Regions from separate parts of the Homo sapiens genome. Here regions 1 and 3 are each linked to region 2. Evidence: fine-mapped expression QTL. A gene starts in region 2. Each other region holds a variant in brackets. All regions are shown on one strand. Distances are between the middles of the regions.

Evidence for each region.
Region 1: its variant is fine-mapped to the expression of PNMA2 in lung (TOPMed, PIP above 0.99).
Region 3: its variant is fine-mapped to the expression of PNMA2 in cerebellum (GTEx, PIP above 0.99). The same link has a PIP of 0.9 or more in cerebellar hemisphere.

What each region holds. Positions count from the first base shown.
Region 1 is chr8:26,438,104-26,440,859 of GRCh38, reverse strand. No RefSeq gene overlaps it. Among named protein-coding and RNA genes, the nearest start is that of BNIP3L, 56 kb to the right of the region's middle. The variant C/G (reference allele first, on the strand shown) is at 1,631.
Region 2 is chr8:26,512,456-26,515,211 of GRCh38, reverse strand. PNMA2 (PNMA family member 2) reads left to right here and starts at 1,340. Exons shown (of 3, transcript NM_007257.6): 1 at 1,340-1,396. DPYSL2 (dihydropyrimidinase like 2) reads right to left here and starts at 1,181. Exons shown (of 14, transcript NM_001197293.3): 1 at 533-1,181. The coding sequence starts at 886. RefSeq lists an enhancer at 2,226-2,756.
Region 3 is chr8:26,464,798-26,467,553 of GRCh38, reverse strand. No RefSeq gene overlaps it. Among named protein-coding and RNA genes, the nearest start is that of PNMA2, 48 kb to the left of the region's middle. The variant G/C (reference allele first, on the strand shown) is at 1,303.

The sequences.
Region 1 (2,756 bases), 74 kb after region 2:
CCAGGAGGCAAGGCCCTCGCCTCAAGGTGTGACATCACAGCTCTGCGGTGTGGCTTATGTTCCAGAACCGTCCCCGGTGGATTAAGCCAAACATAAGCTTTACTTGAGACCTCATCTTTGCTGGGCCCAGCTCTTCCCCGTATCTGTCCGCTTACCTCTCTCCAGTACAGCTTTTCCTGCACAGCGCTCGTTCAATTAACCACATTCATGTTTGTCTCAGGTTCTGTTTCTCAAGACTTGATCTAAGACACGGTGCTTTCAATAAATAAAAGAAAATGCCACGGACAGATAAAACGTGTATGGGAGGCGACCACAAAACAGGGGCTAAAGGAAACTCCCAGATTCATTTTAGAAAAAGAAGAAAAGAGAGTTACAAGAGTCTGATTGTGGGGGAGGGAAGCAGAGAAAGAGCAGCTTCCTGTTTGTGTCTGGAGTGCAGCACACTGAGCAGTGTTTTGCCTGGTTTATTTCCAAAGTATTGCAGGGCAGCTGAGAGCTTCCACAGTAAGGATCAACCCATCTTTTTGACCAGCCCCGGTCAATGAATTACCTGACTCATGCAAGTCAGTAGACTCCACCTGTTCTTTGTTTTTCGGTTTTCGTTGTCTTTTTTAAACAGAGTCTTGCTCTGTCACTCAGGCTGGAATGCAATGGAGTGATCTTGGCTCACTGAAACCTCCGCCTCCCGGGTTCAAGTGATTGTCCTGCCTCAGCCTCCTGAGTAGCTGGGATTACAGGCACGTACCACCATGCCCAGCTAATTTTTGTATTTTTAGTAGAGATGGGGTTTCACCATGTTGCCCAGGCTGGTCTCAAACTCCTGGCCTCAAGTGATCTGCCCGTCTCGGCCTCCCAAAGTGCTGGGCTTACAGGCGTGAGCCACCGTGCCCAGCCAGTAGATCCTTTATGATGTACCTCACTTAAAAGCTACATTTTAAACGGAATAGTCAAACTCCAATAATGACTGTGGTCTTTTTCCTTTTAGAGACCAGACTGATCTACTAATAGTGTAATTCAAAGATGGCTACAAAGGCCAAAACTAGCCAAACCCTCCTGGCCCACTGTGACCACTAAGGTTCCACCTACAAGGACCTAGTGAAAGTCTAATAAAAAGCTGCCTGGCTGGGTGCAGTGGCTCACACCTGTATGTAATCCCAGCACTTTGGGAGGCAGAGGCGGGTGGATCACTTGAGTCCAGGAGTTCGAAACCAGCCTGGGCAATATGGCAAAACTCTGTCTCTACAAAAAAATACGAAAATTAGCTGGGCACAATCACACACAACTGTAGTCCCAGCTACTCAGGAGACTGAGGTAGGGAGGATCGGTTGAGCTGGGAGGTGGAGGTTGCAATGAGCTGAGATCTTGCCATTGCACTCCAGCCTGGGCTATAGAGTGAGACGCTATCTCAAAAAAAAAAAAAAAAAAAAGATAACAGCACTGGGGTCGTCACCAGATCAGAAAGCCAGGAAGAGGGTGCTGCCCAGACCCAGGGTGCCTGGCACTGGCACCCAGCCCCAAGCTCAGCCCAAGCACCTCCTGCCTCTCAGGGCTGGCTGGAGTTTGCTCCCTGATGGGAGACCTGGATTACCCAACCGTCCTCAGACCATATAATACCTAAGTACTTGAGGCA[C/G]TTCTGACTATTGTCAGCTGAGTCTTGGCTCAAGTTTTGTCGACAAAACGGATTAATTTATAACTAAGGTTAAAAACTCTTAAGTGAAAGTTAACTGATTCTGCCCATTTTCAGGGGAGAATGAGAGACACCTCAGAAGCAACTATGGTGGCTACTGGAGGGTCACATGAGGGATCATGTGGGGACAAGCCCAGATGGTGGACTCTTAGGGACAATTGTTTATAAAATGAGCCAAGCATGGTGGCTCACCCCTATAATCCCACCACTCTGGGAGGCCGAGGCAGGAGGATCACTTAAGACCAGGAGTCCAAGACCAGCTTGGGAACATGGCAAAATCCCGCCTCTACAAAAAATACAACAAAATTGGTGGGGCATAGTGGCACATGCCTATAGTCCCAGCTGCTCGGGAGGCTGAGGTGGGAGATCACTTGGGCCCAGGAGGTCAAGGCTATGGTGAGCGGTGATCACACGACTGTATTTCAGCCTGAGCAACAGAGTAAGACCCTGTCTCAAAAAAAATAAACATAGAAATAAAATGAGTGTGCATCTTACTAAGGTGAATGTGTTTAGAGAACAATCATAACTGACATTCACTGAGCACCTGCTGCTTCTGGACACTGCCCCATACTCTACACGTATCAGCTCAGTTAATCCTCACAATAAACAGATACTATTATCATCCCCCTCCCTTTTTATTGTGGTAAAATCTACATTACATTTGCCATCTTAACCATTTGTAAGTGTACAGTCCAGTGCCAATTAAATGCACACAAATTGTTGTGCAATCATCACCACCATCCACCTCCGGAATGGTTTCATCTTGCAAAACCATAATGCTATGCCCATTAAGCAATCATTCCCTCCTCCCCTTCCCCAGCCTCTGGCAACTCCATCTACTTTCTGTCTCTATGAACTTGACTCCTCTATGTACCTCATATAAGTGGAATCACACAGTACTTTCTTTTTGTGTCTGGTTTATTTCACTTAGCATAATGTCCTCAAGCTTCACCCGTGTTGTGTGTAGCATGTGTCCAAATTTCATTTCTTTTTAAAGCTAGATAATATTCCCTTGTACATTCAGCCGCCATTGTTTATCCGTTCATCCTTTGACGGGCACTTGAGTTGC
Region 2 (2,756 bases):
GACCATGGTCCTGGCCTCGGAGCTCGGGACGTGAGCGCAGAAGGCGCGGGCGGAGGCTGTAGGGAGCGGCCGTCCGAACCCCCGCCCCTCCCGACCACCGGGGAGCCGCGGGCCTTCACGCAAAGCCTCCACCGCACGCTCTGAGCCGCTCAAAAAAAGGGTGGGGCACCCAGCCGCAGCTGCAATCGGAAGCCGCCCGGGAGGGTTTCAGAAGAATGGAACCGCGGCCAACCCCCTCCCAGACGACCACCGCCCGCCCCAGCAGGGGATCAGCCCATTCCCTATGCCCACGCCCCACCTCTCAAGCTCAAGGAGACGCGGGCAGCCTTTGTGGGCGCACGGCCGCCCACCGCCCAGCCCGAGCCTCGCCGCACCCTGCGCGGAGAAGGGGCGGGTAGGGCGGGGTGCGCGTGCAGATGCGGGAGGCGAGGTCCAGGGCGGGGCATGAAGGCGGGCGCGCCGGGCTCAGGGGCGAGGGAGGGGCGATCCCCGCGCCCCGTCCTCCGTCTCCACCCCCAACCCCCACACCGACCTGGTCGTTGATGTTCTGCAGGGCTTCTTTGCCCGAGGCCCTCCGGATCTCCACCTTCCGGCCCGATTCAACAGATGGCTCTCCGCCGGCGCGCCGGCCCTGCCGCGAGTACGGCGGCTGCGGGTCCGGGCCCAAGTGGGCGACGTCCCGCTGCTGAGCCACCACCTGCCCCGAGCCCCGGCCCACCGACAGCGAGTCGAAGTCGATGGTCTTGTTCTCCGAGGACCCTTCCACCGGGCAGAACATGCCACAGAATTTCTGCCGGGGCTTGGGGCTGCCGGAGCCCAGGTTTTTAAAAAAAGCAGGGACCTCTTCGTCCTCTGCCGCCTTCCCGGATTGCTTTCTCTCGGCCATGGCTCGGGGGCTCGGGTAGGGTCCTCGCCGTCCGTCCGTCCGTCTGCCAGTCCCTAAGTCTCCCTCGCTGTGTGCACAAGCCCCCTAGCTGCTGCCGCGGCTGCCGTTCGCCGCCCACCGCAAGGTGCACAGAAAGGAAGGAGGGCTGGCGAGCCGGCGACCCACCCTCCCGGTCCCTCCCCCTGACCCCGCTTCTCCCCTCCCTGCCCACGCCCCCCGCGGCTACAGCGCGAGCTCGGGGAAGCGGCAAAGTTGGATCTGGGAGGGCGTCCGCTGCGGCTGCGGGAGCCGAAAGGCTGCCAGTTCCCGGCAGCGCTGGGAGGAGGGAGGCGCGGGCGGGGCGCGGCGCCGGGGAGGGGAGCGGTGCTCAGGGGAGGGCTGGAGGGGAGGGAAGGAGAGAGAGAGGGGAGGGCGGCACCGCCCCTAGCCCCGCGCTCCGGAAGTGAAGCGGCCAGACCACCAGCTAATGGATGCGGAGCGGAGGGCCCGCTGACCGCTCTCCGCGCCTGGGTAAGTATCGGGCAGGGCACGCGGAGTGAGGACCGGAGGACGCAGCCCCCAGCCCCAGTGCCCCTCTCCTCCACCTGCCTGGCCCAGGCGCCTCTGCCCCGCCGCATGGCGGAGGTGGGCCGGGGGCGAGGGCGCACTGTGGATAGGGGTCCCGCCCCGTTACCCTGGGTGTGAGCTGATGGATGGGAAAAGGGGACAAGCCGGGCGCCAGGCTACTCAGGGTGTGGGAAGCGGGATGGCACTGAAGATGAGCAAGGATAGCACAGGCAGGGTGGACAGGAGGGGGGCAGCCAAGACGCTGGACACCCCAGCTTCAGTTTGTCCACTCGCCTTGGCAGGCTGCAGGGAGCAGAGACTGAAACGAGAAGGTTCCCGCTTCGTGCATCCACTTTGGTGTGGTTGGGGTGACGGGGGAGTGGGGGGGGGGCACACAACATGGCGGGAAGAAATTCAGAGGGGCGTAGCAGATGGGAGAGGAATATAGAGAGAGACGCAGGTCTGCGGTCTATGGGGGTGTAGCAAAGAGTGCAGTCGGGAATTCCAGCCCAGGGCCACGACTTAAAGACGGGGTGCAGACCGACTCTATTGCGCAAGGCGCCATGGACCGTGTCTGCGCCACTGCGCCAAGAAGGGCGCAGGAACGTGTCGCGATTTGGTTTATTCTGCTTCCTCCACCAAAAAAAAAAAAAAAAAAAAAAAAAGAGAGAAAAAACAAACTGAAACCCCCTTCCCAAATCTCCAGCTTTCCCCTGCGCCCCAGAGCCCCGCCTGGTTCCCCCGCCCCTGTTGCGCACTGCGCCACAGTCGCAGCGTTTCCCGGGTTACCAGATGCCACGTGTTTGGGGAGTAAGTGCGGGTGCGCATCTGGTGCGGAGTAGGAGGTAGGATGTGGGCTGTGAGTGCCATGAATTGTGTGGGGCCAAGCAGGGGAAAGGTGTGTAGGAACTTGGTGTGTGTGTGCAGTAGCTGAGCCACGGCCACCGGGTTGGTAAGTAACCAGGGGGCAATTAGATTTGTGTGCCTAACACGGTCAATGCTGGTCCTTCATTGCTTATTCCCATCTCCACGTCCTTTCCGCGTATCAGTCCCTGCCTCTGCGCGATGACAGCTCCGCCTCTCTTTCCACAGTGGCAAAATCCTGCAGAAATGGTGCCCCTCCTTTGGTGGCCCGGGAGGGAGTTCTGGGCATGCTCAGTAACCAGGGTGGGTTTGGGCTGAGAGGCCGTTTACCGCAGGGCCACCGCGTAGGGCCGTGTAACCAGGGATCCAGTCCCATTGTCAGCCCAGGATTAAATGCGGTTACCAACCACCCCCACAGTCCAATTGTGAGAGATAGTTTGGTGAATATAGTTACATCTGC
Region 3 (2,756 bases), 48 kb after region 2:
GCACCAGGGTGGGTCAGGAGGGGGAGGGAGAGAGGCTGGAAACACCAGCAAGAGCCTTTATTGTGGTTTCCATGGTAACGGCCAGGCAAGGCAGGGCGAGCAGGCTGAGGACTGCCAGTGGGCTCTGCAGCATAGGAGCTGCCCCTAGTTTCCTCATACCTGGCCCTAGGGTAGTTAGGGCAGAGGCCCGGAGTTTCATCCTCTGTCATAGAGACAGGTGGGGGTGTGGACCTTGGATTGGCTGGTTTCCAATATGGAAGGCACACTTGCAGGCAAGTGGTTACCATCTCCAGGAATTAGCTGGCCCCGGGAAAGGTGGTCTCTCCAAGATCAGCAAGGCCGCAGATGCCAAATCATCAGCAAATACAGAAAATAAAACAACGTGAGGAATACAAAAGTTTCAGTTCAACATGGGAACTGAGGATCATGAAACAAGGATAGTCAAAGTGCTGGCAAATTGGAAGGGAAGAAATGGTTATATGGGAGTTAGCCAGACATGGTGGCACACACCTGTGGTCCCAGGTACTATGGAGGCTAAGACAGGAGGATACCTTGGGCCCAGGAGCTCAAGGCTGCAGTCAGCTACAATCACACCACTGCACTCCAGCCTGGGCAACAGAGAAAGACCCTGCCTTTAAAAAATAAATTATAAAAATAAAATAAAATAAATGGTTATATGAGGACCTACTAGTTCTTTAACAAGGACCTCTGGGGATGCTTTAAGGCTGCCCACAAACAGGCTGACTTTAGCCTTCTAGTGTCTTATGTCTAATGTCTTAAAGGCAAACCTTCATGTAGTTTAGAAACAGAAAATGGTCTTCCCAGCTAGAACATTTTGTCTCCCCAGCTCATGGAACACAAAAATAAAGGCAAATGTCTGTGCAAAGAATTTTTTTTTAATGAGTGAATTTATGTGAAAAACTTGACAAAGATATACAATTTAAATCACATTTAACTGGTACATTTAGCAATTCATCTCCATTCCAATGAATAAAATAACAACCATCTGAGCTATTCCAGAAAAACCCTGCAAGGCAGCCTGCTCCTCTGCGTGCGGGGACGTCTGCTTTCCATTAGGTTGAGGATAGATCCAGCTCCCCCTGCTGATGCACTTCCAAGGAAAAGGCAGACGAAGGGAGAGGCTGCCAGGCTGGCAGAAGGGCACATGTACAGGATGGCCATGTGCAAATCCACCCAAGTGGACCAGCCATATTCCCTGCAATCTCTGATGCAGCCAAGTCCAGCTGAGACATTAAACAGAGTCCGTGGTGACAGGAAGCTGAGGCTGCCTAGAGCCAATGC[G/C]TCTGGTGTAATTGAAAAGGTCTTTGGCCAGTGGCACTGGGGGCAACAAGTGCCGTCCTCTGAGATGGCTGAGGCCATTCCTCCACCCCCTTCCTCTGCGGTCTTGGCAACTGCACTTGCTCCAGCACAAAGAAACGCTGAAGCTGCAGGACGGTAGTGACCCAAAAGAAAGAAGGGTACCGTCAATTCCTTCTCAGCTTCCCATCAGGACAGAGGCATCGAAGCCACTGGCTATGGGTTCCCATCCATTGTTGTAACCATCAAACATGAGCACACTCCCTCCAAGCCAGGAACTGGGCAACGTGCTGTGTGCATAACCCAGCTATGTGCTGGTGATGCCAAGAAAAACCCCAGGCTGCCCTTTCATAAGGTCAGCACCCAAGACCCGGGCGAAGAAGGAAGGAGAGCAAGGAGTCTCCCAAAACCAGCAATCACTTCTCGCTGGTTGGACCGGACAGTGCTGGGAGTGGAAACAAGACACATCCTCTCCACTCTCAGGAATTCAGTCTAGTGAGGAAGCCAAGGAAGGAATGCAAACAAACACTTCTGAGCCGACGTGGTGTGTACAGTGAGAGGAGTGTGGATTTAGCATAGAAATAGCACAGTGGGGCATTTGAGCTGCATTTTAAAGCATAGAAAGGATTTCAGCAGAGCAGGGAGGAGAGAGAATTGATGATCCAGCCAGAGGAGCACAGTGTGCACAGGCAGGGAGGCAGATGCTCAGCACACGCTCAGGAGAGGCAGGGGGCTGACTGCGGCTGGAGGGAAGAAATGCAGGGGCCAAGAGGGTCCCTCTTAATAGTCAGAGGGACCAGGGGGTGGGAGGCCCTGGAAAGCCAGAGAGGAGGTTATGTGCAGTTGGTTCATCCATCAGTCATTTTTTTCTTTTTATTAAAGACGGAGTCTCACTCTGTCACCCAGGCTAGACTGCAGTGGCGCAATCTCGACTCACTGCAACCTCCATCTCCTGGGTTCAAGCAATTCTCCTGTCTCAGCCTCCCAAGTAGCTGGGATTACAGGCACGCACCACGATGCCAAGCTAATTTTTTGTATTTTTAGTAGAGATGGGGGTTTCACTATGTTGGCCAGGCTGGTCTCGAACTCCTGACCTCTGGTGATCCACCTGCCCTGGCCTCTCAAATTGCTGGGATTACAGGTGTCAGCCACCGTGCCCAGCCCATCAGTTATTTTTGAATTAGGGGCATGAGGTCAGAGCTGCACTTTGGGAGATCTCTCTGGCCACATTGGTGAGGTGGGGCAGGAAACTCCAGAGGCAGAAGACGGTCAAGGCCTTGACAATGGTCACACGGGAGGGAGGGACTCCTGCCTAGAGGTGACGGCCCAGGAAATGAGGGCCATGAAAGGAAAGAAGCAGCCAGACTTGGAGCAGGAAAGGGGAGGCCATGGAGAGAGAAAAGCTAGATATGACTTGAGTTTCCAGCACAAAAGACTGA